Regions from separate parts of the Homo sapiens genome. Here region 1 is linked to region 2. The links come from fine-mapping of genetic effects on gene expression. A gene starts in region 2. The other region holds a variant in brackets. All regions are shown on one strand. Distances are from middle to middle.

Region 1 (15,113 bases), 25 kb before region 2:
CGCAGAAGTGGGGTGGAGGATCAGCTCGTTTCGCTGCACTGAATCATTGTTTGTGTTTCCTGTTCTGTGGTCCTCTCTACAGTGGGAGGGTTGTGGTGCTGATTTAACAGTCACCCAGTCTCTAACAGAGAATATGCACCCAGGAGGCCTTCAAGATATGCTTCTTGACCTGGAATGTTCTGTCTCAAAGAATGAGCACAGGCTCCTCACTACAGTGACTCCCCAAGCTTCACTAAATTCGTTCCAACCAGGGAAGAGACCACCTTCCAAGGTCACCTGAGAAGTGTGAGGTATTCGCCAGTCCCTGGAGCACAGCCCGTGGCTGATCAGCCCTGAGTCAGCTGCCTCTCATTTGCTATCTTGGGTGTTAGTTCAAACCACGCAGCGCAGTTCACCTAAGGCTTCCTGCTCTCTCCCCACGTCCGGCTTCCTCGTGAGCCCTGTGCAACCTCCCCGTCCTCCTTCCTTCCTCCCTCCTACCCCTTCAGCAACCCTCTGCAGTCTTCCCTGCACCTAGTTCCCCACCCCGCTTCTGACCCCCATCCTTTCTCTTCCTTTCTTCAGCCTTCACCCCAACCCCGTCTGCAGGTTCTGGCCTTTAGTACTTGGGTGGCTGCCTCGGGCTCTCCTTGCTCTGCTCTGTGGCTGGTCCCACTCTTGAATACTTCAGACACTTGCTTGCCTTCCTGCAGCCTGCGGTCCACTCCAGCCCCACTTCCTCCTCCTCCCGCTCCCCAGGTACCTTGGTGCCGATCTCCTTCTGGTCCTCTTCTTTCAGCGGAGGGCAGGCTTCTCTGGCACAGTCAAAGGAGAAGGCTGTCAGCGTGGGAGCAGACTGAGAAAAAGGCAGGGCAGGCTTCTTGGCAGCGGCAGGCCTGTCTCTGATGGGTGAGGCCAAAGGTTTTGGCTCTGAGGGGTTGAGAACAGGGGTGGAGCTGAAGACACCCAGGTCACTGCTGAGCTCACTGACCCTGTGGCTGGCTCAATTCTACTGCTAAGCCCCACACCCTCAATTCTTCCTCAATGGAGCAAGACCTGAGTTAGGTTTACTGTACAGGGCAGCACTGGCAGGCATGAGACAGACTACCTGTGGACCAGCATCACCCTCCATTCGTTCATTCACTGCACACTTTATTCCAAGATAGGTGTGGGATTGGGGAGGCTGGGCGGGAAACAGGGCCAGATGTGTTATCCAGGAGATGTAAGACATTTCCTGAGAATATAAGTAAGTGTATCTGTCCTGGGAGGTACGTACGGCAGGAAAAGAAAAAGCAAAATGGGCCCACCAATCCTTTCATATGACCATGGGCTTGCCTGAAAGCATGACGCAGCAGGAAAGGGCAGAGTTGCCAGGACCAGAGATCTAACACTAGTCCAGTCTCATTTCACAGACGGAAAAGCTGAGAGCCAGTGTGATGGTTAATGTTAGGTGCCATCTGGATTGGATGCTTACATAGCTGGTCAAGTATTGTTTCTGGGTGTGTCTGTGAAGGAGCTGCCAGAGGAGATCGACCTTTGAGTCAGTGGACTGGGAGAGGAGGACCCATCCTCAGTGTGGGTGGGCACCATCCAATCAGCTGCTAGCTGCCATCGCAGCTAGAACTAAGCAGGTGGAAGAAGGTGGGATCACCTTGCTTGCCGGGTCTTCTGGCTGCCTGCTTTCTCCCCTGCTGGACGCTTCCTTCTACTCCTCCTGCCCTTAAACATCAGACTCCAGGTTCTTTGGCCTTTGGACTCTGAGACTTGCACCAGTGGCTTGCCAGGGGCTCTCGGACTTTTGGTCACAGACTGAAGGCTGCACTGTTGGCGTCCCTGGTTTGAGGCTTTCGAACTTGGACTGAGCCACTACCAGCCTCTCTCTTCCCCAGCTTGCAGATGGCCGCCTGTGGGACTTCACCTTGTAATCGTGTGAGCCAATTCTCCCTAATAAACTCCTTTATATACAGACATATATCCTACTAGTTCTGTCCCTCTGGAGAACCCTGACTAATACAGCCAGTAACCTTCGAATGCTCTTGGGATGGATAAAATACCCGTTCACTTCCACTTGATGGCATCAAATCCACAGTATTGCTTTGTCATTCATATCTTCCCCATCAGCGGATTTTAAAGGTACATTTCTCATTATGAAGGCAGGGCTCAAACAGGTTCATTCATTTTCTGCCACCCACAGGGTTTGGAGCTCACTGTCCTTGGGTGAACCTGCAAGTCAGGGGTCTGCTGAGATGGGGCCACCAGCTGAGGCTGCCTGAGGCTGGAAAAGGCATCTTACCTCTGGGGCCCGTGCAGAGCTCCCAGGTCACCCAGGTCCTCTGCCCAGGCCATGTCTTCTGCAAAGGATTCCTCTGCTTGGTGCAGGGAGAAGGATCAAGGGCCAAGGGGGAAGAGGGGCTTTGAAGCCTCATCTGCCCAGAGGTAAGAGGCAGAGCAGAGGGCACATGTGGTAGGCACCACCTGGCCAGGGCAAGGACTGCAGGAATGCCACAGATGTGAGGAAGCCCCCAGCTTCAGACAAGACCCTGTGAGCCCCTACCATGTGCTAGGCATGTTGCACACAGAGGGCAGTGTCAGCCCAGTTGCCAGCTGGAGGGCAGAGAGCCCTTTAAGGACTTAACTATTTTTTATGTCACTTCTTCACCTCCACCCCAAAGGGATGCCCTGGAAAGCCCTGTCTGAGCAGCCTGCCCCTGCCACAGGTCCCTGGTGACCTGGTTCTCAAGCAGCAAGCTGGAGAGCCAGGGGAGGAAGTGGTTACTGACTGGGGTCTCCTGGCCCAACCCCCACACCAGCGTCCTCCGGGTTAGCTCTTAAGGTCACTCAGGGTGCCGGTGCATTTCGCCACAGACTGCCTGAGCTCACCCTGCTGCAGCCTGGCCCGGGAGCAGGGGAGAAGCAGCTGCCGCAGAGGTTTCTTGTGCCAGGTCCAGCTTTGTGTCTTGATCCCAGGGCCTCTTGGGCAACAGCCACCCCCCTTCGCCAACTGCCCCACCAGCTGAGCTGATTAGCAGAGTGACCTGCCAGGAAGCTGGTCCTGGGGAGGCCACCCCTCCTGCCGGGCAGTAGAGCGGCTGCCTCCAACTCCTCCCCACCCTGGCCTGGGTTCGGGGTGTTCTGCTCCCCAACCCTGCAGCAGAGGCTCAGCTTCCATCCACCCGTCCCACCTCCCCATAGAGTTCAATCCAGGAAGGATCCCTCCTCCCTCTTTAAAGGCCTCCTACCCTGCCCTGTCCCCTCTCCTCGCCTCAATCCTGTGCTGGCCCTATATCCTGACAGCTAAAGCTCCTGGGGCCAGCTGGCTGAGGTTTGTGGGCTCTGGTTTACCCTCTCATTCTCTAGGTGAGGAATACTCTCTCTACTTGCTTAACACACCGCAAGGGGCAGCTGCTTGATGTGTCAAGACCCCAGCTTTGGAGCCGTGGAAACTTGGCTGCAAGCCTGATGGGGCTCAGCGACCAGGGAGGACATCCTGCTCACAGAGCCTTCGTGTGCCAGCTCGTCTGTCACACACGGCCAGAATTGTCTCTCTTATCGAGGCCGTGGCAAGCTGCACAAGCTGGTGTACGTCATCACACCTGACGTACCAGAGCAGGTGTCAATAAATGTCACTTCTCTTCCACACCTCGCCCGGGCCCGCTGCCACCCTCCGGTTAGACCTCCGGTGACTTCAGCTTCCTGCTGTGAAATGAAGGGCCCAGACACAAGAGCTCTCAGATCTCCTCTGGCCCTAATTCTGTTTCCCTGACCCAGCCCAGGAATGTAGAGAGTCAAATAACAAAGGGAGGTGTGCATGGAAGATACGTACCCAGAGATGCAGGGGTCTTCTCCCGAGGCCCACTCCCCCGAGCCAATCTTAAAAGAACGGGGGAGAGAAAAGCATCATGAGGGATGGCCAGCCAGAGACACTGCTGGGGGAGCCCAGGGTGGCTCCAGGATGGGGCAATGGCCGAGATGGGGGACAGAGGGGACGGCACTGTTATCCCTGCAGAGGCTCTTGGCCCAGGATTCAAGCTGCAGGAGATACAGCTCCCTCTGCAAACACAAGGGCAGGCTGACCACCAGGCCAGGTTCAGCCCCATTTCCTGGCAGTGCAGCTCGCGCATTCCCCAGGAGGCTGACACCCACACAGAAACTGCTGACTTAAAGGAAGCCCCCACCCTCCCGCTGTGCTGCTTGGGCCTGTGGAGTTGACAGCAGCTGCAGTAAACAAGGGTAAACTGCCTCCCAGCTTAGACAGCACTGAGCTCAAGTTCTCCAAGCTGCCCCAACCCCGTGAGAGCTCAGTGACCCCTAAATAGTCCCACTCGTGATTGTAATCCCCATCCCAGGGCCTGGGGGGCGGAGCTGATCCCCTTTGCTGTGGCAGGAAGTCACCACTGTTTTGTACCAGAAGCTCAATCCCAATTACCCACAGGAGGGGGAAGACAGTGGCATCCCTGGCACTGGTTTTAATTGTAATTTCTTAAGTTGGAAGCACCATTTACTTATTCAACAGATATTTACTGAAGACCTACTATGTGTCAAGCACTATTCTAGACACTGGGAATGGAGCATCAATAAGACATGACACTCCCCGCCCTCCGGGAGCTCAGGTTCCCATGGAGACCAGCCCTGCAGCGTCCTACATGGCTTTCCCTTCTCGGTGGACATCAGGACCCACTGGGGGGCTGACAGAGTAACAAGCCACAGCAACAGGTCAGGAACACAATATCCCACACACTGGCCTCAGAGGATCACAGTCCAGGCCGGGCTGCAGGAGGGGCGGTAGGACAGCCCCCCTCAGTGCCTGCCTGGATGCAGGGGAACCCTGATCCTTGGGGACTGTGGAGGTCAGGGGAGTCCACAGGAGGAGCGGAGCTTCAACCTGGGCGTAGATCAGCCGGGATTCGCCATTGCTCCCAGGGCCAGGCCCAGCCTCTTGGGTCTGGACCCACAGGGAGGGATCGTGTGGGCTGGAGATAGTAAGCGAATGCTCCAGGGCACCCCTGACCTGGGGAGCTCGCCCACTAGGCCTTTGCCATTGTAACCCACCACTGCTTAACCACTGCCCAACGGCACTAAGAGGATTGGAGGCGGGCGGGGAGGGGAAGTGGAGCATCAAAGTCCACACAGTTGCCCTTGGCTTCTATGAGCTCATGGAGGTCCCAGGCTGCCTGAGGTGAGCACAGGATGCCAAAAACCCCAATGCTTATGCCTCGGCTTTGCCCCTGGGGCCCTGAGCTGCAGCCTCCCCCGCTCTGCGCCCCCCCAACACACACACACACACACACACACACACCTGCTCTGAGCAAGGGATTTGGCCTCAGAGGACTTGGCGCAGCTTCTCTTAAGCTGTGGACCCTGGGGAAGCCTCTTGCCCTCCCCTTCTCTAGCGACCCCACAGCAGAAAGGACTGAGGCCAAGACAGGCCATGCCGATCAGGGCCCCTGCCTTCCTGCACGTGGCAGCCCCGCCCCACCCTGTGCGAACCTCACAGAAAACCCACCACCGCTCAGGCTCCTCCGCAGGCCCCAAGGAGGTGGGTGGAGCAGGAGCAGCAAAGCCCTGTTTCCAGCAAGAGCCCCTCCCGGCTCCAACCCAAACGTCTAAGCATGTCCAAGAGTGGCCTCAGCACTGTCCCCAGCACCTGCCTCTTCTCCTATGCCCTGTCTCCAAGAAGGGTGCCAGTATCTGTCCAGTGGCTGAAGCCAGGAACCCCGGCATGGTCTCAGCTCCCCCATCTTCAGCCCACATCTACCCCGTGGCTTAGCCCTGCCATTCATCCCGCCCCGCCCCCACCTCTGCATCCTCAGCCCACAGACTCCCTGCCTCTGCCCTGCTCAGCCACCCTTTGCCTTCTCCCCGGATTCCTGCAGCAGCCCCACCTCCATCTACACGGTCCATGCCACTCTGAGGTTGCCAACATGGCCTTTCTAAGTCACAGCAGATGCCACTTTCACACCCGAAAGCCTTTGGTGGCACCTCCTTACAGGAGGATGAAGCTCCCACTTCTCAGTTGGCACACAGGCCCTTCACCCCCACCCCGCAGGCTGTCACGCAAGGATGCAGGGGCTCACTCCTCCTTCCGTCTCTCCCTCTTCCACCTCCATCTCCATCTCGCAAGTGTGCCCTCATCCTGCCCTGAGAAGTCTGCCTGGCATGATTCAGATCTCTTTCTCCTGGGTCACCAACATGACAGGCAGCCTTCGCCTACGCACCCACCTCTCTGAACTTCACCTTGATGACTTCCTGGCTGGAGCACACAGATTGTGACCTATGCACCTGGCACATAGTAGGTGCTTAACAGCTTTTAGGTGAGTAAACGGACAGATGGATGACTGAAATGGTAATAGAGCCTCCATCCCCTCCATTGGCTAGAGAGCCCCACATTGTCAACAAAGGGAAATCCATGTCACAAACCAAACAGGAAAGGACAGATATTTATTACGGAACTAATCCATGCCAGGTACCAATCCTGGCCCCACAGAAGCCACAGAGGTTTTTGACATATGGCCCCTGCCCTGTGGTGCTCCAAGTTAAAGAACAGAATGAGGTTTAAATAAAATAGGCTGGCCAGGTGCGGTGGCTTCTACCTGTAATCCCAGCACTTTGGGAGGCCGAGGTGGGCAGATCACCTGAGATCAGGAGTTCAGGACAAGCCTGGGCAACATGGTGAAAGCCCAGCTCTACTAAAAATACAAAAATTAGCCGGGCCTGGTGGTGCATGTCTGTAATCCTAGCTACTTGGGAGGCTGAGGCAGAAGAATTACTAGAACCAGGGAGGCAGAGGTTACAATAAGCAGAGATCGTGCCACTGCACTCCAGCCTGGGTAACAGAGCAAGACTCCATCTCAAAAAAATATATATATTTTTAATTGGCTGGGTGCAGTGGCTCACGCCTGTAATCCCAGCACTTTGGGAAGCCAAAGTGGGCAGATCACCTAAGGTCAGGAGTTCAAGACCAGCCTAACCAATGTGATGAAACTGCAGCTCTACTAAAATTACAAAATGTAGCCAGGCATGGTGGCATGCTCCTGTAGTCTCAGCTACTCGGGAGGCTGCGACAGAAGAATTGCTTGAACCCAGGAGGCAGAGGTTGCAGTGAGCCAAGATCGTGCCACTGCACTCCAGCCTGGGTGACAGAGTGAGACTCCATCTCAAAAAATAATAACAATAAAAAATAAAAAACAAATAAATAAAACAAAATAAATAAACAAAATAAATTTAAATAATCAAGATTTGCTTATTTTGTTTAATGGAAGGGAGGGGCTGAGGCAGTCCCTGGGCTGGATGCCTGTGGACAATGCAGAGAAGACCACTTCCCCTCCTTGCCGCCCTTTAAAGGGAGAGTAGGTAGACATGGAACAGTGGAGATGAAATGAATGGGTGGGGAAAGGGGTGAGAGGCTGTTGGGGTTGCAGAGATGGACGAGGGGAAGCACCATGTCCCCTCGTAAATGGATGGATGGATGAGTGAAATGGTAATAGGTCCTCAGGGTCTGGAGGGGTAAGAAGGCCCCACAGAACAAGCACTGGGGGACAGCGGGGAGGAACTGTGGGGTCGTGGGCTGGATGGACCCTGATTGTCAGGCCAAGGAGACTCAGCATTATGCGCCTGGGTCCTTGACACAAAGGACCCGCCATTCATTCAATCAGGAATGTCAATACAGGCAAAG[G/A]GCCTGCAAGAGGTGTGCAAGGTGGCGGGGGAAGCAGGAAAATGAAAGATGGGGATGGAGCGCACAGGGCTGCAAGGATACTGGCTAGGCACTATTAGGGGAGGTCAAGAAGGAAGCGGAAGTACAAACCAAGAGGGAAAGGCAGGGGCAAGAAAGGGGTGGAGCTTTCATGGCTGTTAAGAAAGACTTGGGGGCTATGGAAATGTGTTGGAGCAGGAGGCACTAGGAGCAAGGGTCAAAGATGACACTGAGACTTGAAGGCCAAGAAGAAGGTCTGCACCTTGACAGCAATGAGGAGGTCTTGGGAGGGGGTGGTTTGGGGAAACACGAGGTGGTCCTTGTTGCCATGATGGTGGCACAACCTCCCTGTCTCTCCCTCTGGTGCTGGATCACATCAGCCAGGAGAAACTGGAGATGCCCAACAGAAAGATGGAAACCCGGAGCCTGACCTGTGGATGGTTCCAGGGCTAGAGCAGGAGATGTGAACTCACCCACATTCCACCATCTGGAAGACTTGGGCACACATAAGGGCCCCAGGAGAAAACAGGAGATGGGGGCAAACAGTCCTGGAACAATTTTGGGAATGGCAGAACTTAGAAATGGAAGAGGGCACACAGGAAGCTGCCTGGAAGGTCGAGAAGCAGGTATAAAGTCAGGATGCAGAAAAAGAAGAAAAATTCAAGGGCCATCCATGGTTCAAATGATGCAAAAAAGTCAAGAGTAAAGAGATAAGAGGAAAGGCCACAGGTCTGGGGCCAGTGAGTCATGAGAGGCACAGATAAGGCTGCTCCGAGGGGAGGAAGAGGCCAGCGTCTGAGTGGGAAAGGGGAGGACGTGTGCAATGGTGAGGAGGCGGAGGTCAGTGGAGCAAGCTGCTGTCTGAGGAGGCTGACGGTGAAAACTGAATAGAGAACTCGAATCCAGGAGCAGGTACATGGACGGGTCTCTATAACCCACAGGGTCGGAGAAAGACATGAATATGTGTGTGCACAGAGGGAAGGCACCAGGGAGATGGAGGGAATGAGGAAGTGTGAGAAAAATGGAAGAATCCAAGTCATCAGGCCCCAAGAAACGGGAGGGAAGCAGTCACAGCAGGAACTGGATTGTGACTCTACTGAAGGAGCCAGGCCCATAGGCCCTGAGCACACGCACACACACTCCACACACATGCACTCACACATACACATGCACTCACACACAGATACACATGCACACACATGCACACACACAGATACACATGAACACACATGCACTCACACACACGCACTCACACACATACACATGCACACACATGCACTCACACATACACACATACACACACATGCACACACTCCACACACAGGCACTCACACACACACATGCACACATACATGCACACATATACACTCCACACACATGCACACACACTCCACAAATGGCTTCACACACAGTCACACACACAAACACATGCACTCACACACATGCACACACATGTGGTCACACATGCTCACACATGTACTTACGCACATGCATGCTCTCACACACATGCACACACATATGCACTCCACACACATGCACCCCACACACACACACGTGCTCTCACACATACACATACACACACACTCCACACATGCACTCACATACATATGGTCTCACACACACACGCACACATACACACCCTACACATGCACTCATACGGTCTCACACACAAATACACATATGCACACATACCCCACACACACACTCCACACACATGCACTTACACACACGCACTCACACACATACACATGCACTCACAACATGCACTGACACATATGCACACACATGCACTGACACATACACATGCACACACATGCACTCACACACATGCACTCATACACATGCACACACAGATACTCCACACATGTACTCACACACACACATACACACATATATGTGCTCACACACATGCACACATGCACTCACACATGCACGCACTCCACACATGCACTCACATGCATGCTCACACATGCATGCCCTCACACACATACACACATGCACACACACTCCACACATGCACTCACATGCATGCTCACACATGCATGCCCTCACACACATACACACATGCACACACACTCCACACACATGAACACACACCACACATGGCTTCACACACGTAGTTACACAAACACATGCACTCACACACATGCACACATGCACACACATGCAGTCACACATGCTCTCACATACATGCACTCACGCACATGCATGCTCTCACACACGCACACACACACTCCACATACATGCACCCACATACATGCACGTTCTCACACATACGCTCCACACATGCACACACACGGTCTCACACACACATGCACACATACCCCACACACACACATGCACACACACACATATGCACACACACTCCACACACATGCACTCACACACATGGTCCCACACACATATACACACATGCACACATACCCACACACATGCACACACACACTGCACACATATGCCCTTACACATGCACTCACACACAACATGCACTCACACACATACACATGCACACACACCCATACACATGCACTCACAACATGCACTCACACATACACATGCACACACATGCACTCACACACATACACATGCACACACATGCACTCACATACATGCACTCACACATACACATGCACACACATGCACTCACACACATACACACATGCACTCACACACATACACATGCACACACATGCACACACATGCACTCACACACGTACACATGCACACACATGCACTCACACATGTACACATACACTCCACACACATGCACACACAACTCCACACAGATGCACTCATACACATACATGCACACACATACTCCACACATGCACTCAGACACACTCAGACACATACTCTTGCACTCATGCACACACACACTCAGACACACACACACATGCATGCACTCACACATATACACATACTCAGACACACACACTCTTGTACTCACATACATGCATATACTCACATATACATGCACACATACACACTCATACACATACACTCACACATACCTGCAGGCACTCATACATGTGTGCACACACAAAGACACTCAGACACACTCACTCTCACACACACGTGCTCTGACATCACTCTGGACTGACCACGGGGATGTTGCTGGCCATCTAGAGCACTGTCTTACTTACAAGCCATAACCCGATTTATGCCAACACAAAGATCCTCTTCCCCACTTGTTTGTGGGATATGAAGACCCCTTTTCAAGTCCAAAAGTTTGTGGACTGTCCCCCATACACATGATACTGGTTGTATTTTTAGTATCCATCAATTAAGAAAATATTTAATTACAAAGAGCTGCCATGAACTCAATCATGCTTTAAAATAGTGTTTTATTCATAGCCGGGCACGGTGTCTCACACCTATAATCCCAGCACTTTGGGAGGCCAAGGAGGGCAGATCACCTGAGGTCAGGAGTTTCAAGACCAGCCTGGCCAACATGCTGAAACCCGTCTCTACTAAAAATACAAAAATTAGCAGGGCATGGTGGTGGGTGCCTGTAATCCCAGCTACTCAGGAGAATCGCTTGAACCCGGGAGGCGGAGGTTGCAGTGAGTTGAGATCACACCACTGCACTCCAGCCTGGGCGACAGAGTGAGACTCCATCTCAAAATTATATATATGAGATAAAATAATTAGTGTTTTATTCATTACTCCGGCAACCTCATCCACTAAGGCACTGGGAGAAGACAGAGGCTGGAGACATTGTTCGTGATGCCATTGACCCAGCCTGCCGGAGCCAAGAGGCAGAGAAGCCCCGGCAACCATGCTGGGACCTCCCTAGGTCTGTGGCTCATGGGTGGAGCCCCCAGCCCTTTCCCTGCCTGGTGTCCCAAGAACTCTGCCACAGCATGGAGGGTCAGCCACAAGGAGCCCCAGTGGATCTCAGGGGGACAGAGGGAGAGAAGTCAGCAAGGAAGGTTTGACTTGGAGCTCTTACCGCGTGCGTGGGGCCCTCAGGCCTGTGAGGACTCCCTGGCCTGGAGGTAACGGGCTGGGAAGGGAGCCAGGCACACGGGAGGGGGTCGCTGCAACCGTCCTGGCCTTTGGGATGGGTGGGATCACGATGGCGCCCAGGGACTTCTGCATCTTCTCATCATTGCAGTGCAGGTATTGCCAGGAGATCTGCGCCTGGGAGCAGAGGCGGGACAGGGGTCTGGCCTATGGCAACATCCCATGGTGAATGCTCACCTCCAGGCACCTCACACAGTGTGGGACCTGCTGTCTCTTTTCAGCCACACCACCCTGGGACCCCCAGAAGCCTGACTGCTTCCTTACCACTCCTGGTGAGGAGACTGGCAAGCCCTTTTGTGACTATTATTATTCGTTTTTCTGTTCTCATTTCAGAAAAATCCTAGAACATCAGAGCTGGAAGGACCTTCAAACACATCTGGGCCAAACCTCTATTTTCATAGATGTGCAAACTGGGGCCCAAAGAGGGGTGTGACTTGCACAAGGTCACACAGCCAGTGAGGGGCAAACAGAAACCAAGGCCCAAATCTGAGTCCTAGCCCAGCATTCTTTGCCACACTCTTGCTTAAAATGGAGAGGGCCAGAAAGCAGGAGGAATTCTGGAACATTTAGACCAGAGAAGGCCTAGGGGACCACCAGTTCTAGGACAAAGGTCATGCAGCCTCTGGCACAGCCACCCAGAGCCCCCAGGCCAGCTATGGAGGTTTGAGATGCTGGGGGAGGTGGTGAAATGAGCACCTTGAGCCTCTCCCAGTGCTGTCCCTATCCTCACTGCAGACCTCAAGACACCTCCAGGGATGCTCAGGGCATGGAGTCAGGGGTTGGTGGAGGCTAGAAAGAAAGGCAGGAGGAAGGGAGGGCAAGAAGCTGAGGACCAGACTCACAGCAGTCGAACCACCTTACCTCCTGAGCACCGGGTCTCAACTCGTGAGGACCCGGAATGCTCCCCGGTAGGTCCAGGCCCTTCTCTTTGACTCCGCTGGCCTCAGGGGTGGTAGGGATGCTCTGGATGAGAGGCATCGGCCTGGGCACCCTCAGCAGCCTCTGAGAGGTGGCTCGGGGGATGGTGCTGTGCAGGGGAACTCCTTGGGGGCCTCCCCCTGGATCCAGAGAGGCTGTACAGGGATGGGGATGGGAAATCAGTTAGTCCCAGAAGAACAGGGAGTGGAAGGTGGATTCAGACCCCAGCAACGGGGCCTTCTGCCCTGGGAAGGACTGGGATGGCGAGGAGAGAGATCAGATCTGTCCCCAACCCCACCACTGGTAGACTGAGCAAGCAGCCACTTCTGAGTGTCTGTGCCATTCCAGAAAGGGCCAATCCAAGTTACCTGTTTAGAATTCAGAGGCAGCGTGGGAAGGAAGGGAAATAAAAGCAGTGCCAGATCAGGAGGAAGCATGGCAGGTCCTGGCCGTGGGTAGAAGCTATGTGACCTCGAGCAAGGCACTGTCTCTCTGAACCCCATTACACTTCTGTGAAATGGGGTGATTCAATAACATCACTTATATAAGATGCCAGGCAAGTACCTGCCACTGTTTCCCCTTCCTTTTCGGCTGGTGATGTGGGGCGTAGCTGTTTTGACACAGCTAACATAGTCTAAGACAGACCGCCACACTTCCAGCTCCCCTCTGAATGCTTTAGGTGCCCAACAGACATCTTCAGCGCCCTGTGCCCCACCCCATCTCACCCCACAGCCATGCCTCAGGCAAAGGCACAGGGCAAGAAGCACTGGGTTGGGCCAAGAGCTCAGGGTTATCTTTGTAAATATCAGTGATGAGGAATAAAAAAAAAAAAAAGACTAGCATTTTAACTTTCATTCTGGCCTCAACAAAACCACTGCATCAAAACAGCCAAGTCAGGCCAGGCGCAGTGGCTCACGCCTGTAATCCCACACACTTTGGGAGGCCGAGAACGGGAGGATCACTGGAGGTCAGAAGTTCAAGACCAGCCTGGCCAACATGGTGAAACCCCATCTCTACTAAAAATTAGCCGGGCGTGGTGGCACATGCCTGTAGTCCCAGCTACCGGGGAGGCTGAGGCAGGAGAATCGCTTGAACCTGGGAGGTGGAGGTTGCGGTGAGCCGAGATCGCACCACTGCACTCTAGACTGGGCAACAGAGCAAGACTCGGTCTCAAAAAAAAAAAAAAGATTAGCTGGGCCTAGTGGTGGTTGTCTGTAATCCCAGCAACTCAGGAGACTGAGGCAGGAGAATCACTTGAACCCAGAGGTTGCAGTGAGCCAAAATCGCACCACTGCACTCCAGCCTGGGTGACAGAGCGAGACTCTGTTCCAGAAAAAAAAAATTAAAAAAAAATAAACCAGCCAAGTCAAAATATCATCTCTGTTCCTGCACACTCGCTCCCCTCCTGGCTTCCGGTGCTGGTTCTGTTCTGTCTTGGAGCACTGTTGTGTTGTGGTTAGCCTGTGGGGAGCTGAAAGGATGGAAAAGAAGGGGTGTGGTCAAGTGGAGACTGTGCCACTTGCCGGGCCACCTTGAGCCCCAGCTGGGTCAGGGCACAGAGGAGTCAACTCAGCCTCAATGCAGGGGCCAGAGCAGCCCCAGCACTGCCCGGGGGCCAGAGATCCCCGGCCCTCCATGCTTGCTGAGGGGCCTGATAAGTCTATAGGTCACTGCCCATCAGAACATTAGGTAGAACAACTCCATTCTTTTTTTCCCTATGCTGGAACTTTGTAAAAAAGAAATGAAATATCTAGAAAAGGGCTTCAAGCCCCTAAGGGAGAGAGTTGTTGGTCTGGCAGCTCTAGGAGTTGTACCTACTGGAAGTTCTAAGGAAGCTTCTCGGGCATTCCAACCCCACCTTCTGCCTCCATAATGTGCAGCCAGGACAATTCCTCCCAGAGGCTCCCTGGCATTGTCCTGGGCTCCCCGGGAGCTGGAGACACCCCACGGCTCCAGGGAGAGGCTCAGCAGGTGGAGCAGTCTGCACAGGGGAGGGGAAGAACAGCCAACCACAACCCCAGGCTTGACGGCAGCAACCACGTGCCTCTTGAGAGCACTTCCCCTTTCTTCCTAAGACCTCAAGACTTCTTATTGCTCTTGTTACCCAAGAGTTCATTCCGCTGAAAAGAGCCCGTATGATTCACCCAGAAGAGGAGAGAAGGAAGGAAAATAGTAACAATGTATTAAGTTCTTCCCATATGCCAGGTGTTGAGAATTCTGTGTACAAGTTTTCATTAAACCCCCACAGTAACACAGAAGTATTATTAATAGTGTCCCCATTCCACAGAGGAGGAAATCGAGGCCTGAAATGTTACCGACCTGCCCAAGGCCCCAGAGCCAGTGAGTATCGGGGCTAAGATTTGAACTTGGCTTGTCCACCACACAGATGAGAGACAGTATAAAGTGCCTGCTGTTGAATCCCTTGTTCATCTGCTCAACAAACGTTTCTTGAGAGCCTCCTAGCTGCCAAGCGACTGTGCCTCACACCGAGATCTCAGTC
Region 2 (15,113 bases):
CTGGGCCTGGAAGTAGGATCAAAACGGGTAGGAAATGGGGTCTAAACGGGTAGGAAGGAGGAATGGCATTCCAGGCCGAGGAGGCGGCCTAAGGCAAGCGTGGAGGAGATGCGCCTGTGAGTCTGGGGTCTGGCAAGAGGATCCAGGCCCGGGGAGCGGGATGAGGGCCATCGGGGGAGACCCAGAATGCTCTGTGAGAGGGTCGGGGCTTGCTCTGCAGCCCCGGGAAACTCTGAAGACTGTGCAAGGAGAGGAATGGCATTATCTGACCTGCAGTTTCATGCAGACCCCTCAAGTGGGGCCTTGGAAGGACTTCCTAAGGAAGGGGAGCCTCGGAGAGAATTACAGCACTGACATGTAGAGATGTCAGCCCAGCCTCTGGACCAGGCACAGAAAATAAACAACTTAACCAGGATTTCACACTGATTATACGCAGGGTTTAGACTGGACAGAACATGCCTTCCTGTATCTCGTGCTGTCTCCCTGTGGACAAGAAACAGCTACCCATGCTTCCAATCACCATACACATACATCTCACCCCTCCACCCACCTCTGCTCCCCTCATGGGAGGCAGCCCAGGCCGTAGACCTGCAGGGAGGACTCTGGATGTTGTCAGGTGACCAACTTATGAGACTCTGACCTCCAGAGTTCGGCCTGCCACTGAAAATGTGAGATTCACTCATTCATTCAAACATGCCATAGGTACTAAGATATGAAGGGGAATAAGACTAAAATCCAGCACCTGCAAGCTGTGTGACTGAAGGCACGTTGCTAAACTTCTCTGAGCCCCAGCTCTTTTAACTGCAAAGTGGAAATACTGCTGTAATCCTGGCACTTTGGGAGGCCAAGGCTGTCTGATCGCTTGAGTTCGAGACCAGCCTGGCCAACATAGTAAAACCTCGTCTCTATAAAATACAAAAATTGGCTGGGCATGGTGGCTCACACCTGTAATCCTGGCACTTTGGGAGGCCAAGGCTGGCAGATCGCTTGAGTTCAAGACCAGCCTGGGCAACACAGTACTGGGCAACACAGTAAAACCTCATCTCTACAAAAATACAAAAATTAGCCAGGCGTGGTGGCCTGTGCCTGTAGTCTCAGTTACTTGGGGGTGCTGAGGCAGGAGGATCACTTGAGCGCAGGAGGTTGAGGCTGCAGTGAGCTGAGATTGTGCCACCGCACTCCAGTCTGGGCGACAAAGACCCTGTCTCAAAAAAGAAAAAAAAAGGAGATAATGCTTATCTCACTTCAATATTGCATTCAATAAAATATGAAAAGCGGGCCCGGTATGGCGGCTTACACCTGTAATCCCAGCACTTTGGGAGGCCAAGGTGGGCAGATCACTTGAGGTCAGGAGTTAGAGACCAGCCTGGCCAACATGGCAAAACCCCATCTCTACCAAAAAATACAAAAATTAGCTGGGTGTGGTAGCACAAGTCTTTAATCCTACCTACTCAAGAGGCTGAGGCAGGAGAATCACTTGAACATGGGAGGCAGAGGTTGCAGTGAGCTGAGATCACACCACTGCACTCCAGCCTGGGCGACAGAGCAAGACTCCAGCTCAAAAAATAAAAATACAAAAACCTGACCACAAGAGAGTGCCCAGAGCTAAGGAACATCCCAGGGAGCAGCAGCATTGAGCAGAGATGGGTAGAGAAGGGGAGACCCTAAGGGGGTCTGATCAAGGACAGCCAGGGAGGCCAGGGGAGTTGGCGCCAGGAGAGCCAGATGAGCAGAGAGTGGTTAGAGGTGTCAGCTCAGCCAATTGGATGTGACCATTATGGAATCATCGGGAGCTTAGTGAGAGCAAGGTCTGTGCCTGTGGAGGCATGCGGGTCACAGAAAATTGCTGAGGTCTGAGGCGTGAGTGGAAGGTATAGAGATGGTGAGTCCAAACAACGCTGGAGAATTTGGATGAGAAAGGCAGGAGAGAGGTTGGAGAGTAGCTGGAGGGGAATGAAGGGTGGATGAAGCTGTGTTGTTTGCTTGTTTGTTCTCTGTATTTTTTGTTTGCTTGTTTGTTCTCTGTATTTTTCAGGGTAGGAGATTCTAGAGCGTGTTCACAGGAGGAGGAGAAAGAGTCAGAAGGAAAAGGCTGAAGACACAGGGGAGGGAGGGGAGCTGATGGAGCGGGAGCCCAGTGCTAACAGCTGAGGGAGAAGGGCACAGGCTGGGCCAGATGGGAGCACCAGTCCTCGGACCCTGGAGGAAGAGCCAAGGGTCCTACAGAGGGAGAGGTCAGGAAGAGAGAAAGGGCACGTAGAACGGCCTTGATATTGGCAGTGAAGAGGGAGGTGAGTCTGCTGCACATGAGAGCTGGACTCAGGAGTGTGAAGTTCTGAACAGTCACGGAGACATATTCTGACTTTAGAAGAACCAAACCATTCCTTTCCTTTCCTCTCCCAGATGCCTCCATCTTTATTAGGAGGGCTTCTTACAGGCAGCACCTACCCTTGTGATTTCAATTGCCATCTGATTATCGGGACTTCCAAGCCTACCGTAGAGCCCAGACCTCCCTCTCTGGAGCTGCAGACAAGCTGCAAGGAGGCCTGGATGGCTCCACCTGCATGTCCATCTTTATTAGCTTGGGGCAGGGCTGGTTTCCACACTGACCCTCAACTCGGCCACTCCTAGAGCTGGCAGTCCCAAGAGCCACTTCACCCCCAACTGCGAGACTGATGTCCACACCCATCAGACCCCCTGTGGGGGCATCCAAGGCCCCCCGCCACTCAGGCCCCTGACTCCAGCTGTGACTGGCATGTGGGGGCCAGCAGAAAGGCCGTTCGCAGATGAGAAGCCCCCCACCACAACTCTTTACCAGCTCTGGGTCTACCACCACTGCTGCAGATGGCGTCTCCTCTCCCATCGTGAGATCAGGTGGGGTTAATACTCCTGTAGCCACTCTGTTCTCAGACAATATAGGGTGCAGCCAGCCAGCAATTCCACAGAATGCAGACAAAGGGACAAACAGTGCCAGGTTCATGGCAATAATGCAGTAACTGTAGTGTGACTGAATGAATGAATTCAAAACTAAAGCACATTGGCCGGGTGTGGTGGCTCACACCTGTAATCCCAGCACTTTGAGAGGCCGAGGTGGGCGGATCACGAGGTCAGGAGATCGAGACTATCCTGGCTAACATGGTGAAACCCCATGTCTACTAAAAATACAAAAAATTAGCTGGGCGTGGTGGTGGATGCCTGCGGTCCCAGCTACTCGGGAGGCTGAGGCAGGAGAATGGCGTGAACCTGGGAGGCGGAGTTTGCAGTGAACCGAGATCATGCCACTGCACTCCAGCCTAGGTGACAAAGCAAGACTCCGTCTCATAAAAAAACACTAAAGCACATCTTCCAGACAGTCTTATTGAGAAGAACCTAAGTGAAGGAATTAACATTTCTTAGTTCCATTTTGCTTTGCGCCCGGGGCAATGTACTACAGTGTGCTTCCAAATACTATGTCATTGAGCTTTGGAAATAGAGAAAGAAAGTATGTATTTTCATCTTCATTTTATAGACAAGATGATTGAGGTTCAGAGAGGTTAAGTAACTAGGTTGAGGCCACAGAGCTACTAAGTAGAAGAGTCGGGGCTGATGGTTTCTGTTCACGGAGGTGGCAGTATTTCAGGGCATTCATTCAGGAGTCAACAGGGTTAAATTCCATCACCTGCTAGCTGTGTGACTTCAGGCACATGATTAAAGTTCTCTGAGTCTCCATTTAACTGCGAAATGGAAATAATAATATCTATCTCCAAGGTTATTGAGAATATTCCACAAAATATGAGAAACATTTAATAGGCTGATTGGGCCCAAGGGCTCGATCCACAGTGGCTATTAATAGTATTGGTTGTTTAGTAACTGTTTTGCTGTGTTCAGATGTTCAGGAAGAGGGGAAATGTCCCTTTTGAAAGCCTTTGGGCCAAGAAGCTACAGAGGCCTGGCTGAGGCTGGACAGCAACACGGAGGTGCCACCTTGTGCAGCAGGAGGTCCTTCCATTTCCTGAGCTGTCCAGGGTGAGCAGGAAGCAGTGGGCAGGCTGGGGCGGGACACTTACAACAGGGGTCAAGTAGCACGTTGCTGGGAAGAACCTTTCTTAACAGAACAGTCTGTTCAGGAGGCAGTTCACACCTGAATCTAATGACCTCCCAGGACAGGGCAGAGGAAGTGGTCAGAAACCCAAAGCAGCACTTCCCAACTGTTTTATGCCCAACGCAGCCGAGGAATGTGGCCATCCATTTGTAATAGCAGCTCAGTGTGGGTATCTCGGGTTGGGGGTGGATGGGCCGCAGCATTTAAAACATCCCCCCTCCACAACCCCAGGAAATTCTGATGTGAGAATTAACAGTCTAAAAGACATAGGAAAGCCTAGGGGGAGAGAAAGTTTTATTTAGGCTGTTTTTGAAAAACAATGAGATAAGTGACAAGCAGGGCTGCCATGTTTGATTGTCTAGGTTGGGCACTGCACGAGGGCATCCTAATTAAGGAGACATCTCTCACACTACATCTTTTTTTTTTTTTTTTTTGAGACACAGTTTCACTCTGTCGGCCAGGCTGGAGGTCAGTGTCATGATCTCAGCTCACTGCAACCTCCACCTCCCAGGTTCAAGCAACTCTCCTGCCTCAGCCTTGCAAGTAGCTGGGATTACAGGCATGTGCCACCATGCCCAGCTAGTTATTTTTTTGTGTGTATTATTAGTAGTGACGGGGTTTTGCCATGTTGGCCAGGCTGGTCTCGAACTCCTGACCTCAAGTGATCCACCCACCTCAGCCTCCCAAAATGCTGGGATTACAGGCATAAGCCTCACACTACATCTTCTCCAAAGTCCTGGCAATGTTGTTTTAGACGATGACTGTACATATTTGTACATTCATTTCAGTCTTTTTCTGATGAATAGAAGAAAAGTGTCTTGAGAAAGAGACATCTTTTTCTAATTCACAAAGGAACCATATGAGTGGGCTGTGGTCCTAGTAACAAAGCGTATGTAACTTATACACAAATTTACAAAATTCAAAATCTTCTGAACCTGCCCCCACCTTTGTGTATCGTGTTGGTGCAAATATAAATTAGAGATTAATCAGAACTTGGTCTAGTAATTTAACAGAATTTCCCATGCCTTTCTTCTGTTACTAAATTTCAAGCTGGAAGGGGCCTTGGAGGTCAGCTAGTTTCCTCCCTTGTAAATGAGGGGTTAATGAGCCGAGATCACACCATTGCACTCCAGCCTGGGCAACAAGAGCAAAACTCCGACTTAAAACAAAAACAAAAACAAAACAAAAAAATGAAAAGCAAAACAAAAAAAAAACCCCAGCAATTTAGTTCTGGAGGCTGGGAAGTCCAAGATCAAGGTGCCAGCTGATTCCACTCCTGGTGAGGACTCACTTCCTGGATTGCAGGTAGCTGTCTTCCCTTTGTCCTCACATGGCAGAGAGAGAGACAGAGAGCAAGCTCTCTGGTCTCTTCTTCTAAGGGCACTAACCCATCATGAGACAACCACCCTCACGACCTCATCTGAATCTAATTACCTCCCGAAGGCCCCACCTCCTAATACCAACACATGGGGGGTTAGGCTTTAACATTTGCATTTGTGGGACGCATGCATTCAGTCTATAACACCTACATAAGGCCATCAGGAGCCAATACCTATCCCAGGGCCCATACCCCTATAGGCATCACACTGGCTGCCAGCTGGCAAGGCCTTCAGCAGGACTGGGAGGAAAGCTTCCTTTTCCAGCTTCCCATCAAGGCCTCCCCAAAATGGTCACCTTGCCACTACAGTGCCTGGTCAGAGCCTGTGTAGTGTGCTCCCAAGGATTAAGGTTTTGGGAGGGGTAGGATACCACCGCATCAATCCTGCCTGAAATCACACAGCCATTGGCTGGGGCTTGGAAGTCTTCTGCTGGCCCTGAGATTTCCACCATCAAGGTAAGAGTTATCCTAGCACTTGATCATAGTCCTGGAGTCTCGAATGAAAAATGGCTTGGTCCACTGCCCCAGGAATGCCTTCTGCAGGGTTTGGCTGATCAGTTGAGGATTCCTGCCCAGTAGCAGGAGCTTGAATCTTCAAACTGTAGACTGTAAACAAGCACATGTACTCAGAGGATCAGAAGGGACTAGGAAGCAAGAAAGCATCTTGTCCAAAGTCTCAGCAAAGGTGTATTGGCATGACTCTAGCATCTGAATGTCTGTCACACCCCAGGAAAGGGCTCTTGGCAAAGGCCTCCCTGCAAGAAGCTCAGAAGACTTCAGACCCCGGCCCTGTCCCTTCCCAATGGCCCATGAGAAAGCCGACTTTCTTGAATAGGAGCCAGAGTTTTGTGTGTGCCTCTCCAGGACATACACCAGGTTTTGCCTGGGAAATATAAATGGCTTCTGTGGAGGGACATTTTTTTTTCTGTCTTTGTTTTGTTGAAGAGAAATCCAAGACCCAGGAAGGGATGTGAGTTGGGCCAAGAACCAGAGGTTTTAAAACACGAAATGGGAAACTCAGACTTCCAGACAGTGGCTCTGGAGCCTGGGTCTGTAATTCAAACACTAAGAAGTATGTGGAATAGTGATTGGTTCTCCAAGAAGAAGAATGGAGGAGAGGGATGGAGGAGTGGGGAGGGCAGAGAGAAAAATGGGGCTCAAAAGCCTGAGCACCATGAGGGGCTGAGATCACAGAGAGCAGAGGAAGGGAGGCACCCAACAGAGGAGGAAAGAGGTGAGGAAGAATGGCTGGGGGCAGATGCTCAACCCCCTGGTAATCAAGAAAATGCAAATGAGATGCTACCACCATCCCACAAAGATGGGCAAAAATTGAGATGGGCGGCAATGCCAAGTGCTAGTGAGAGCACAGAGCAATGGGAGCACTCATGACAGCTGGCAGGTGAGATGCAAATGGGCACAAACCCTTGGGAAAGTGGTCTGGCTTTACCTGATAAAGCTAAAAATGCACAAACCTAATGTTCAGCAATTCCACTCCTAGGAACCCACCCTTGAGAAAGTCTTGCACAGGTGATCCAGGAAAGGAGCTCGAGAGTGTCCAGAGCAGTGCCATGGATAATGGCCAAAATCTGGAAAAAATCTAAATGTCCAACAGGAAAATGAAGGACTAAATCATGGTGCACTCACAACATAGAATATTACAGAGCAATGAAACAAACGACTGCCCCACTCAACACTATGGACGATGCCACAGCGTAATGTTTAGTGAAAGAAGACAGACCCAAGAGACCACACAGGGTATGCCCCTACTTCTATAAAGTTCAAAGAAAGACAAAATTACATCGAGTGTTTAGAAATGCATACATAGGCCCAGCGTGGTGGCTCACACCTGTGATCCCAGCACTTTGGGAGGCCAAGGCAGGCATATCACCTGAGCCAGGAATTCGAGACCAGGCTGAGCAACATGGAAAAAACCCATCTCTACAAAAAAAAAAAAAAAAAAAAAAAAAAAATATATATATATATATATATATTTATATATACACACACACAAAGATTAGCCGGGCATGGTGGTGTGCACCTGTACACCCAGCTACTTGGGAAGCTGAGGTGGGAGGAACACTTGAGCCTAGGAGGCAGAGGTTGCAGTGAGCTGAGATCATGCCACTGTACTCCCACCTGGGGGACAGAGTGAAACCTTGTCTCAAAAAATGAAGCGAAATTAAATTAAAATAAAAATGCAGACATAGATGGAAAACTTGATAGAAAATCAAGGAAAAATTAGTAGCATGATTAACCCTAAGGGGAAGGGAGGCAGCTGTGATAAGGACAGGGCCCACGGGGGTGGGTTCTGGGAGGCGGCCAGTTTTTCTGTTTCTTGGCCTGGGAGGTGGCTACATGGACATTCACTTTATAATTATTCCTCACACTGCATGCATTTTATGCATTCTTCTGTCTGCAATAATAAACTTCCAGCCTCTGTGCTAGTGAGCAGAGTCTGGTGCCTCTGAGGTAGCCGTGGGGTCAATGGGAGGATGCGCTGCCCTCAGAGGCAGGTCTCTCCAGAGCTCAGGTTGACATCTCCCCATCCCTTGCCCCCAACTACCTCCCCCTTTCTTCAAATCTGTTAGTCTCAGGCTCCATGGGCTGAAACTGAGCCAGTCCTGGGAGCCAGCCTGTGGCTAGAAGGCTGCAGGGCCGTCTCCTGCAGGGCATTGGTGAGAAGAGCGAGGGACTGCCCAGTTCAGGATAGAAGCGATTATGGGCCCCTCACACCACTTCCTGGGGCCAGGCACCAATGCCCTGTGGCCTGCCTCAGTGATGCTCCGACAGAGTACGGGCCCCAGTCCCTCCCCTCCCAGCGCTCCTGAGGAAATGGCAGCCCTCTGAGGTCCCCCGCCAGCACCAGCCCTTGTCCTGGAGAAGTGACTGGCAAAACCTTAGTTTCAGGAGACTGAAATGTGCTCCAGAAAGGAACATGCCAATCTCCACCTAACAACAGCATCAACAACAAACAGTAACTTCCATTCTGCGCATGGGCTAACGTGCCAGCTGCCCTCCTGACTGTCTCCATGCTCACAGACAGCACCAAGGGGGCTTTTTTTAAACCCTTCTTCACAGATGAGAAACCTGAGGCTCAGAGAGGCAAAGAGCTCAAGTCCACACAGCCAGAAAGAGGGGGGGTTAGAATTCAAACCCAGAGCAGAGCCCCTCCAAGGCCTATGCTCTCACGGGGTGCCCCAGCACCCCTAAGCACGGGTGCCATCCCCACAGCATGCCCCCACCCTTCCCGGCACCATCGCCCACAGCACCCCAGGGAGCTGTTGCCCTGTGAAGGGTTCACCCTGAGGTAGAGAGCACTGCCCACAGAGGCCATGACTCGGGGAAGGGGTCAGCCCAGGCCAGCCCCTCCTTCCTTGGCTCCCAGTGCTCAGAGAACAGTGAGTCCAACCTCCTCCCCTAGAGCTGCCACATGAAGGCCCAGAAAGGGTCAGAGACATCCCCACGGTCACACAGCCTCCAAGTCACAGCAGGATGCTTTTTCTTTCTCTGTGTGTTTGTGCTTGCTCCAGTTCAGGTCTTTATCCCTCCCTCCAGGGACTTCAGGGGTCCTGACCCAGCCTCCCATTCACCACCTACAATAGATGGCTTGGTGGACCTATCGTCTCTCACCTCTCTGTCCAGAGGCCAAACCCCTGTCACTGGAGGAATCCAGGGTCCTTGGTCTCTATAGAGACGTTGATGCTCATGGGCCCAGGGAGGCAAGGACGGGGCAGCCCCAGGCCTGGCCCACCCTGGCCCCCACCAGCCACACAGTCCTGGGCCGCAGCCTCCTGTCTGAGCAGGGGCTGGGTGGCCACGAGCTCCACTGCTGGCGTGCTCCAGCTCTCAGCAAAGCTCTCCTTGAATAAACAAGGCTGCATAGCAACCACTCGCTGAAGGAGCCCATAGCTCCCTGCGCGGGGGAGAGACCGAGCCGAGAGATTTTCCCCTTGGTCTCATTGCCTCTGTGGCTCACCGGAGCACAGGCACTACCAAGTGGCCGACCTGTCCTCTAGGGTCATGGACACCACAGAAAGAGAGAGCACTGGGCCCCCCTGCCTGGTGACTGCAGCCAGGAAGTGCATAGCTGGCTTGGTGCAGGGATGTTGTTGGTAGAACTCCTGGTTTTGCTCACATGGCCTCTGGGCTCAATCTGCTTCTGTTTACTAACTCTCCTAGAGGCAGAAAGACAGAGTGAGCATCCAGGCCTTGGCAGCAGGCAGCTGGGTTTGAATCCTGATCCTGCTACTTCCAGCTGTGTGCCCTCTGGTCAGAACTTTACCTTTCTTGACCTCAGTTTCCTCATCTATAAAATGGGTACACCAATAGTACTGACTTGATAGGGTTGCTGTAAGGATTTCAAAGGTGCATGTAACAGCTTGTAATTTTGTCTAGCACTTGGTAGGCTCTCCATCACTTCCCCAGAAATCCTTGCAGAGCAGAAAGCCTGTGGCCTTCGTCCCAACCAGATTTCTCCACCTTAACTTTTGGAAAATGTGAATCCTAGCAGCCCATGTGTACTTTCTCACTGAACCCAGGCTCTTGGGCGGAAATCCCAGGCTGGCATCCTCTCTCTGGAATGACAGCCAGTCCCACTCCTCATGCTACCCCCTTCTAGCCCTCACCATCCAGGGGGCACACAGTGGAAGCCAAGGACTCAATTTGTATGCAGGCTTGCAAACAGCCACTCGCCCAAAGATACTATGAATTTTCCCAGGCAGCTCCTCCCCATATTCTGTACAAAGGAATCAGCAGGTGTGTGGAACACACAGGGATGGCTGGTGGGAGGCCAACTACACCCCACGAGGCCTGGGCTGCTGAAATGCTTGCACACGGGGTAGCTCCTTCCTGGGACTCTCTCCTCTTCCCTGAGATGGCCAGGGAGGGCAGGCCTTGGGAGTAGCTGCTGTCATTTACCAAGATCCAGGAGGGAGCAAGGAGGGCCAGCCAATTATGACTGAGAACAAGGTCCCTCTGGGGCAGGTGCTGGCCCCAAGCCAGAGGTCACAGCTGACAAGGCGAACGGAACTCCTGAACTCCCTGTAGCAGAGGCCCAGAAAGGAGACTCTTCCTCCAAACCAGGAACAGTGGCTGTGCGGATTCCCCTTGGGAGACAGGTATGAAGATGCCCAGGTGGGGAAAGAGAGGCCTGGCAAGTTAAGCCCTTGCCCCAAGCCACACAGCTTGTGAGTGAGAGCGACTCAACCATGGGAACCCAGGGCGGGGACGTGACAAGGCAGGTTTTGGTGTCCCTCAGCTCTGGCAGGGAGATGGTGTGTGTGCAGCTCCCCCAAAGCCCATCTGCATGTCGCTGCTTGAGTCGGAGCTTCTAGAACACAGATCCGATGGCCGTGCCCTGCTGGACACCCCTCATGGCCCCTGCTGTCCTTGGTGTAAGGGCCAGACTTAGCACCATGGCTGCCAAGCCCCTCTAATCAGGCCCCACTGCATCCTCCTTCAGCTCCTGGGCTCTCCACACTCTGCCTCCACTGGATGGCCGAGCATTATGTGTTCCCAAGGTGGGCTGGCCATGCTCTGTGCCAAATGCTAGAGACACAGGAGGCAGCACAGCCTGCCCTCAGGAGCTGAGTGATGGAGAGAGGCCCCAGCAGGTAACCCCCTGCTTGTTCCTGTGTTACCTGCAATAAGGGAGGATGGATAACACAGCACAGCCCTTAAGAACCAGGGCTCTGAAGCCCCTGGATTCCAGACTGGATTCTGATCCCAGCAATGACATCTTAGGCAAGAAACAAACTCTCTGAGTCTTGGTTCTTTCATATGCCTAGCAGGAAGACTGCAGATCCTCCCTCCCTGGGGTGGCTCCAGTGACCCTCAGTGTGCCCGCCAGGCACAGAGCACGCACTCACCCTCACTGTGACCATGGACAGAGAGCGAATCCCAGGGGCAGTGAGGTGTGACATCCACATGAAATCCCCGAGGTAAGGAGCAGGCCAGTCGAGGAGCATGGGTGGAAACCGCTGAGGCAAACACAACCTGAGCCCCGGGCCTCTGGGGGAGCCAGGAGCTGCCTGGAAGGATTGGGGCACTCCAGGTGGGGAGGGCAGCCAGGCTGCCACCTGGAAGCTCTCTGGAACTCCCCTGAAGAGACCTCAGAAAGAAAGGGACACGAATCCAGCCCTCAGTCATTTGTTGTGACTTCTTTTCTCATTCTAAAAAAATATTTTCATACTTAATTTTGTTTTCTTTCTTAAAGAAGCCCCCAAATTGTTTAAGCCTCGAGTCTCACAAAGCCTGTATCGACCCCTGGTGGAAGGGCGGCCAGACCCTCGGAAGAGGGTCAACAGCTATGAAGGAAACCAGATGTCACCTGTCTCCTCCAGTGCCCAGTGTTCCCAGTCATTGCCCCGACTCTCCTGGGTGTGCTCACACTGGCCTGCTCCCACCCCCAGAACCGATGAACAAATACTTGATGTGAATGAATTAAACTGACTCACAATACAGAATCACAAGCTGGGAAGAGGGCTCTTGAAAGTACCAAATAAGTAGCCCCCTCCACATCCACAGGGGATAGCCCCCATCTACCCCAGAAATCTACTCAAGATTTCAGAAACCAACATTCTATAACTTTCCATGCTGATGGATTTGGTCAGTGGAAGACTACTAAATTCTGATCCTGTTCCCTCAGTAAAAATGTCACCAAGAGTCCTCTTGGCCCTTGTTGATTTGTAAAGTGAACAAAGCTGTTTCTATGTCTAGCAACAAGAAGGACTAGATACCCTGAACACACTTCCCATTGCAAATGACCTGAGCATCCTATATCCAAATAGTCTCCTGAACACGTAGCTGGGCTATTAGCAGGGACTTCACTGAGGGGTCTTCTCCCCTTGCTCTGGGATGTAGCTGTCATGCTCCTCTCCTCTCCTGGCCTTTGTTCATGCTGTTCCCTCCACCCCAAAAGCCTTTCCCATATCCCTTCCTACCCCTTACTTATACCCATCTCCGGCCGGGCACGGTGGCTCACGCCTGTCATCCCAGCACTTTAGGAGGCCAAAGCAGGCAGATCACCTGAGGCCAGGGGTTCGAGACCAGCCTGGGCAACATGGTAAAACCCCGTCTCTACCAAAAATACAAAAATTAGCTGGGCATGGTGGCGCATGCCTGTAATCTCAGCTACTCAGGAGGCTGAGACAGGAGAATTGCTTGAGCCCAGGAGGCAGAAGTTGCAATGAGTCGAGATTGTGCCACTGCACTCCAGCCTGGATGACAGAATGAGACTCCATCTCAAAACAAAAACAACCAAAAAAAAAACACTTTATACCTATCTCCCTTGGCCAATTCCCACCCACGTGCTCCCAAGGGGAGTCCTTACTGACTCTCTAGAAAAGAGGTGCCTCTCATCTGCCTTTCTAGGGCCAGCACTTCCCTATCACAGCACCACTCATCCGCTGACTGTAACTGCCCGCCCCTCTCCTGGCCCACCAGCCAGCCACACAGACCTAGACTGTGAGCTCCTTGGGGGCAGGATTCATGCCTTATATCTCTGGAACCAGCGCCAGCCAGGTTCCACATGGGTGTTGAGAGAGCGACACCAACCTGACTGCACGTGGGGAGAGGAAGTGGCTGGCGGCATAAGAAGCCCCCGCCCCTGCAACATTCACCGCTTCTTCCAGGACCAGACCTGAGATCCAAGCTGCAGACCAGAGTCTCAGCCCCATACATTGTATGGCAGGGAACAGGTAGGGGGAGTTCTGACCCCCTGGGCTGGTGTTGCCCCCTTATAAACCAGGACCATCCCAGGCCTAGCTGGAGGTCAGATCCCAGGGAGCATGGGGAGCAAGGGCCCCTGGTAGGGACCCTAGGAGGTGGTATGCTCAGGCGCCTCCCCCATCTCTGTCTCAGGTACCCATCCCTCAGGATAAGGTGCCCCCAGGCTAAAGATGGTTAGCATAGGGCATGGCCAAGGGTTCCAGGCAAGTGGACAGAGAGTTGGTTCCAGTCCTGACTTTGTCACCATTACTGTGTGCCCTCCAACAAGTCCCTGCCCTCCTTGGGCTTCCAAACTGTCATTTGTGATCAGACACTGGGTGACCTCCTGGTCCCTTAGAGCCCTGATGCCCTGTGTCCTGGGCCCTGGCCCAGGCTGAGGAGAAAGGCTGGAAGCCCCCCATCCCTTCACAGGCCACGCCCCCCCAGGTAGAAAAGCGGATAATGGAGGCAAGCTGGCACTGCCTCCAGACTGACACTGTGCTGGCTTATCTCCCAAAATACCACTGCCCCACCCCCTCCAAGGCCAGCCCCAGCCTGGAGAGCCTGAAAGGCCCTGTCAGTACCACAGGCTGGGTGGGGGTGCTCAGACACTGCCAAGGACACAGAACAGGCCCCTCCCAACCAGCACCTGCCACTGGGCTGACGTGTTCCCTGGGAAGTTCCTGGGAAACTCTAGAATAATGTATGCAACCTAAGCACAGGATCAGAGAGAGGACTAGGCCAAGCCCCTCTTATCGCAGATGATGGAGTCACACAGGAATTCAGTGGTAATGACAGGATGGGGACTAACGCCTTCTGGTTATGCTGCTTCTGGCCCCAGCTGCCCTTCAGGGCTTCTCCCAACAGAAGCCAACCCCTCATCTCACATGGGGTGTGCCTCTCCCTCCTTTCTCCCCATTCCACAAAAGGACGTGTCAGAGAAGAGCAGCTCCCTGCCCCACAGCCACAGGAAAGCTCGAGAGATGGAGGGCAGGGGGAGGGGAGGAGTTAATAGGTGAGTAAATAACTCCAGAAGCTAATGGCAAAAAAGAATTTGATGGGTTTTTGTTGTTGTTGTTGTTGTTGTTTTTGAGATGGAGTCTCACTCTGTCGCCCAGGCTGGAGTGCAGTGGTGTGATCTCAGCTCACTGCAAGCTCCGCCTTCCAGGTTCACGCCATTCTCCTGCCTCAGCCTCCTGAGTAGCTGGGACTACAGGCACCCGCCACCACGTCCGGCTAATTATTTTGTATTTTTAGTAGAGACGGGGTTTCACCATGTTAGCCAGGATGGTCTCGATCTCCTGACCTCGTGATCCATCCACCTCGGCCTCCCAAAGTGCTGGGATTACAGGCGTGAGCCGCCACACCTGGCCCAGAATTTGATATGTTTTTATAAGAACATGCAAAGAAATAGGAAAATGTGTAAAATGCTCCTAAACTTCCACTTTGTAAAAATTAAGCATATGTTTCACATACTTATAATATGTACATATTCCTGTACATATATTGTCATTTTTTTAAAAAGCCTCCACCAGCAGGGCCCAGTGGGGAGCTGAAATTCCATCCCATCATCAGCAATGAGGAAAGGCATAGGGGTGTGAGGCAATATCCTGCTTTTGCTGAGATGGTATCAGCAAGGCCCAGTGGTGAAGCGAACATCCAATCCCACCTAGATCTGTGTGCTAGACCTAAACAGGATAAATGCCCTGCAAAAAAAGAAGACAGAAGAGGACCTAGAATCTCACAACACAATACCCAAAATGTCTAGGAGACAACTGAAAACCACTCATTATACCAAGAACAGGTAAAATAACTTGAATGAGAAGAGGCAATCAATGATGCAGCGCCCAGATGACACAGATTTGAGGATTCTCTAACAAGGATTTCTAAATAGTCATCATAAAAATGCTTCAATTTGCAATTATGAACGTGCTTAAAACACATTAA

What was found. PIP is the estimated chance that this variant, and not a neighbour inherited with it, causes the effect.
Region 1: its variant is fine-mapped to the expression of TOGARAM2 in whole blood (TOPMed, PIP above 0.99).

Annotation. Positions count from the first base shown.
Region 1 is chr2:29,000,191-29,015,303 of GRCh38, reverse strand. TOGARAM2 (TOG array regulator of axonemal microtubules 2) reads right to left here. Exons shown (of 20, transcript NM_199280.4): 5 at 12,557-12,768; 6 at 11,622-11,812; 7 at 3,803-3,849; 8 at 743-909. Among named protein-coding and RNA genes, the nearest start is that of TOGARAM2, 26 kb to the right of the region's middle. RefSeq lists an enhancer at 4,013-4,142. The variant G/A (reference allele first, on the strand shown) is at 7,652.
Region 2 is chr2:28,975,515-28,990,627 of GRCh38, reverse strand. TOGARAM2 (TOG array regulator of axonemal microtubules 2) reads right to left here and starts at 9,330. Exons shown (of 20, transcript NM_199280.4): 1 at 9,090-9,330.